Linked DNA regions of Homo sapiens: region 1 is linked to region 2. Evidence: fine-mapped QTL for protein levels in blood plasma. A gene starts in region 2. The other region holds a variant in brackets. All regions are shown on one strand. Distances are between the middles of the regions.

Region 1 (2,929 bases), 16 kb before region 2:
TAGACCATACACAAAAATCAAACAAAAATGGGTATATTCAAGATTTTCCACATTTTGTGATCTAATAGACATCCATACTATTTGTGTAAGACCTTTGAAATCAGGCTTCGGCAAACAATGATTTATGATTTCTTCTTACTTAAAAATATTTCTGGTTCAGTGTACCTTATATGAAATATTTGGGATGAGAAGTGTTTGGGAATTTGGGTTTAGTTTTTTGGATTTGGGAATATTTTCAGAAAACCCAGTGGTTGAGCATCCTTAATCCAAAAATCTGTGATCTGAAATGCTCCAATGAGCATTTTCTTTTGAGCTCCATGTTGGGGCTCAAAAAGCTCCAGATTTTAGATCATTTTGCATTTCAGATTTTTCATATTATGCACGCTCAACCTGTACTAAAGAAGATTATGCCATTTTAATGACTGGATAATATAGACATATAAACCTAATATAACTCTGAGGTGAAGTATATCCCTTCCAATGTCACATTCATTAAGTAAAGAGACATGGAAGAGATGCAGATTCAGTAGAGATCATAAGAAATTTAGTTTTGGATATAATGAATTTTAGGAAAAACTGGGACCATAAAACGAAAAATGTATATACCTTAGAATAATGAAATGACCCTTCTTAACTTTTCTTTTTGAGCAAATTCCTGTATGACTACAAGTAATAATAAAAGAATATGTGTGTTGTAGTGGTGGTGGTGGGGGCCTTGCTCAGTTTCTTCAGTTGGCTGAACATTTTCTGGCAATGAGAAAAAGGGACACATAAGACTATTAAGAAAATATAAATATGTCAAAGGTATACTTTTTTGCATAATAATAACTTAGCTTCTATGATTACTCAATCTCCTCCTTCGTCAGTGTTCCAAGGGAAACTATGACTTGTTAGCATTATGACTAAGTGTTAGGAGAGGAAATGCCCATATTGCAAAGTTGCATCCTAAGCAGTCAAGCAGAAGTTTGTGGCTTTCTTTCTGTGAAACTGACTCTTACAGAATGGCCCTTGACTAAGGGGAGAAGTCATTACACTCTTTCCC[A/G]GGACTCTCTACTTCTCCTACCTAAGACATTTATAATTATATGGTTAAGTGACTACTTCTTTTGTCTTCAACATAAGAATGTAAATTCTAGGCGAGCTGATATTGTGTCAGTTGGGTGCTTTTGGACTGATTCTAGGAAATAGTACTGTCTAATATCTATATTAGCTATAGGTATATTATCTATATCTAATATCATGAGCCAGATATTGCACAATAAGAGGAATCAGCATTCTGATCCAGTTCTTCAGCTCACTTTCTGTACAACTTGGGAGAATTCATTTAATCTTGCTAAGCATTGGTTTACTCGTGGGTAAAATAAGCTTGTACCTAATAAGCACCTCACAGAATTGTGATATTCAAAATGAGATAGCACAGTAAATGCACTTTTTAAAGTGGCATACTCATGTAAAGAAGTTGAGGAATAGCTTATTTTATAGAGAAAAAGATTTTAAAAATCAGTTTTTCTACTTTGCTTACTTTTCCTCAAGTATTCTTGTGTTCTGCAATATGATCTGAGGTTTGAGTTACAACTCTTGTCTGAGATATTAAAGCTCAAATCTTTAGCCTGTGACAAGTAGAGCACTGAATCTGCTTTTTAAAAACTTTAATAGTAAAATGGCATAATTCAAACAGCAATCATTACAATAAACTTCGTACTATAATGTCTCCTTGTACAAGAAGATGAAAAGGTATTAAAAACCACATTACAAAAACCAATTTAAAAATTAAAAAAACATACAAAATATGTGAAAAATATAACAATTAAATGAAAAAAGTGAAAGTTGTCAATATTAATAGGAAGTAAAGCTGAATACAAACCAAAGAACATTAAATTTATTTCCTTTAGCATCCTCATTCTCAGATAAGAAAGCTTCCTTTGTGACTGAGAATATAGAAGCAATTCCAAAAGATCTACAACAGGTTCCCACCAGCACATCAGCATCCATACTGTACTCTTCTCTGTTACTGTGGAAGAGGTCTCCATGTCCCTACCAAAGACTAACCCTGAACATTTTCTTTTATTGAAAGAAGGAAGATCTGAAATCGATAATCTCAAGTTACATTGTGAGAAACTGGAAAAAATGAGGAAATCTTAACAAGATAAGCATAAAAAAGAAATCATAAATCACAAAGGGGGAAAACAATTAAATAGAAAACAGAAAAGCAGTAGAAACAGATCAATGAAACCAAAAGGTAGTTCTTTGAGATTGATAAAACTGATAAACGTGAAGTGACCAATCAGAAAAAAAAAGACAGAAGACACAAATCACCAATAAGAATGACAGAGGTAACAACTCTAGAGTTCTTATATAAATTAAAATAATAATAAGGAAACATTATGAAAAAAATTATATCAACTATTTTGTTAATTTAGTTGAAGTGGAAGAATTCATTTAAAGACATAAACTACCAAAATTCACTCAAGAAGGAATTAATTTATATAGTCCTACATCTCTTAAATTAATTGAATTTCTAGATAAAAATCTCTGATAAGAAACTCATTGGCTCTGGTGCCATCACTGGTTAATTCTACCAAAAATTTAAATAAAAAAATACTGATTCTATACACATTCACATATAATATTAACGAAAAGAGAACACTTACTAAATTATTCTATGAAGTTGCCATTAACCTACTAACAAATAAAAAAAGACATTAAAAGAATAAATAAGAAAAGCAACTACTGCAGATAAATGTCCCTCATGAACAGAGAGGAATGTCCTAAACAAAATTTTAGCAAATAGAATCCAACAATATATAACAAGGACAATTAATAATGAGCAATTGGGGCTCAGGCAGAAATGCAATGTTGATTGACATTTAAAATTCAACCAATATAACTCAAGGTATTGGCAAACTAGAAAAGAAAAACCATGTGATTACTA
Region 2 (2,929 bases):
TCCCATATATTTTGTTTTTCTAGCTATTTTGACTCCTCTTCCCATAAAGGATTCAAGAAAATTTTAAATATAGTTTTTAAGGTTTTTCAGTAGTGTCTTTGAATACTTTTAACATCTGACCTACATCTTTCTGTAAAGGACTTTAAGATGATTTCCCTCATGATATTTTCAATAGCAGTTTATGATTTGAGGTAGACGTTCTTGTTATCACTACAACCATTCTTTTTTGTTGCTGTTTCCTGAAAGAAGGTTGTGGCATCGCACTCTTTGATCTATCTTGCAATTAAATTGGCCATGAAAGATAATGTGATTCATCTAACTTTTATATGAAAAGTAAAAGGAAATATATTGCTCATTTCAAAAATTCAATTCAGGCCAGGCACAGTGGTTCACGCCTATAATCCCAGCACTTTGGAAGGCCGAGGCAGGCGGATCATGAGGTCAGGAGTTTGAGACCAGCCTGGCCAACATGGTGAAACCCCGTCTCTACTAAGAATACAAAAATTAGCCAGGCATGGTGGCAGGCACCTGTAGTCCCAGCTACTCGGGAGGCTGAGGCAGGAGAATCGCTTGAACCCGGGAGGCAGAGACTGCAGTAAGCTAAGATTGCACCACTGCACTCCAGCCTGGGCAACAGAGAAAGACTCCATCTCAAAAAAAAAAAAAAAAAAGAAAGAAAAAAAAAAAAGAAAATTAAATTCAGTAACTTTAAAAAACAAATTTTTGTTACAAATTAAAGAAAATAATTGACTTCCCTATTTATTTTGACTCAAAACTGGACAACCACTGGCATTTGACTGCTATAATGATTTAAAAATTAATAAGCTGATTCCTGCTCAGAAAATGCTTCTTCTAATGCAGTTCTAGCTACAGTGTGGAATATCTGTCTCCTTTAGGTACACCTTGGATGATCTGGACTCTAAAAATCCAAGTTACACCCAAGATTCCATTATCCTGTGGTTACTCACTTGGACCACAGACATGTAGGACCTGTCTGAAAGAAATATAAGAATCAAGTGGAAGTCAACCAGTGAATCATCCCTATAATGTAGTGAAACTTTAGAAAGAAGAGCCGGGAGGATGTATTGGTTGTTAGGAAAATGTAGGCTACCAGTAGAAAATGACATTCTCTATTAATAAGATCTGAGGTGCGACACACATAATTGTCCCAATTTTTAAGATTGATGGGGAGCATGAAGCATTTTTTTAATGTGTTGGCAGGCCCCATTAAATGCATAAACTGCATAGGACTCATGTGGTCTGAATGTATTTTAGGGCTTTCTGGGAATTGTCTTGACAGAGAACCTCAGCTGGACAAAGCAGCCTTGATCTGAGTGAGCTAACTGACACAATGAAACTGTCAGGCATGTTTCTGCTCCTCTCTCTGGCTCTTTTCTGCTTTTTAACAGGTAAGTTTTTTCTTAAAATTAAGATCCCATATTTATACTGAACTGGATATGATGAGTAGTTGTTTATCATATTTTAAATCCTAATGATTTTGATGTAAAAGACCAATTCTGAGAGATTATCATAATGATGATAATGATTGTGATGACGACAATGGTTATGGTAATAATTATTAAAATTACTGTGATTTGTTGAGCATATACTATATTCTAGGCATGTACGAAGGGATTTTATGTATTGTCTCTGAGACTCATAATAAGGTATTTCTATCTCTGTTCTTCATATAAGAAACTGTGGAACAGAGAAATTGAGAAAATCAGCAAAAGACTTGCAACTAGTAGTTAGAATCTGGAATTTGAATCAGATTCTCTTGCCATCACATTTAATGTTTGTTCCATAAAACTAGATTGGAGGATGGATAATTGCATTAAATATTGGTTTTGCTTTCCAGAACAAAGAAATATTTTCCTCCCCTTAGTTATTATTACAAAGACATTCAAATAATTAAATTAAGACAATGGGGAAATTGGAAACTCAATGAGAAAAATCTTTGAAAATATGTAATTGAAACTTAGAATGCAGAAACATATGTTTCTGGTGAGCTAAATAATCTTAGAGAAGGAGAATATCTTTGGACACTTTAGTGAGGTTCAAAGCACAATCATACTTCAAGGTTATGTTTTTTAAGACAGAACCATCGGAATGAGCAGGTCCATCATAAGCTATTTTCTTCCTTATTATTCTACTCTTTCACGTTGTAGGGCACAAAGCAAATGCTAGTTTTTAGACCTAAGACCTAGTTTCATCTCTTCTATTAATGGCCTGTGTCACTTAAAGAAATAACATAATTTTCTGAGATATTTTGTCATTTGTAAAATAATAGAAATAAAACTAAGCCCTGGGACCTTCCATATCTTATGTATCATTTTGTGTGACAGTAGCAGATGAATTTTACTACTATGCAAGATTTTAAATGGATGTACAAGTAAAAAAAAAATCAATGAGATTTAGCTGATAGAGAAGCCAGTGTTCACTGTAGCTGGTCATAATTACAAAAACAAATACACTTAGAAATACAAAAAAAATGGGTAAAGGATTCCTGTGATATTATGGAGTAAGCTTGACTACTAAAGCCAAATAACCTTAATGGGTAGTTCAATCAGTTGCTGAGATGGCAGAAAAATATATATCTGACTATGTAAAGTTTAGCTGCAAAGATAGTCTCAGAAATCAATTGTTATTTCCTTTTCTTCTCTTTACAAAGGTGAATTGATCTTTAACAGGATCTGGTTGACTAATACAGTTTACCAAAGCATGGATGCTTCACAGACATACTAGATAGTATTTGGGAGGCCATAATGCCTAAGGGCCTTAATGCTGAAACAGAGTAAAGTGAATTTTAGCCCTGGCACTTTCATTTTATAGCTTTGTGAACTCTCTGATGTTTATTTCACTTATATATAAAATAAACATATAAAGGACTATCTCTGTGTGGAGAATTAAATGAGAAAAAGGCATGTAC

Alleles and levels. Positions count from the first base shown, and alleles are read on the strand shown. Strength reflects both the effect of a copy and how common the allele is.
As copies of A replace G in region 1, the plasma level of the protein whose gene starts at base 1,297 in region 2 goes up (strong association).

The links. A credible set is the group of variants that fine-mapping cannot tell apart. PIP is the posterior inclusion probability: the model's chance that the variant is causal. Protein levels are from antibody-based Olink assays in UK Biobank. Linkage for the fine-mapping came from a reference panel and not from the study's own genotypes, which makes the PIPs less certain.
Region 1: its variant is the best candidate, but not a certain one, in a credible set for the plasma level of the SPINK6 protein (UK Biobank, PIP 0.89).

What each region holds. Positions count from the first base shown.
Region 1 is chr5:148,185,519-148,188,447 of GRCh38, forward strand. No RefSeq gene overlaps it. Among named protein-coding and RNA genes, the nearest start is that of SPINK6, 16 kb to the right of the region's middle. The variant A/G (reference allele first, on the strand shown) is at 1,043.
Region 2 is chr5:148,201,746-148,204,674 of GRCh38, forward strand. It overlaps SPINK6 (serine peptidase inhibitor Kazal type 6), which reads left to right and starts at 1,297. Exons shown (of 4, transcript NM_205841.4): 1 at 1,297-1,409. The coding sequence starts at 1,352.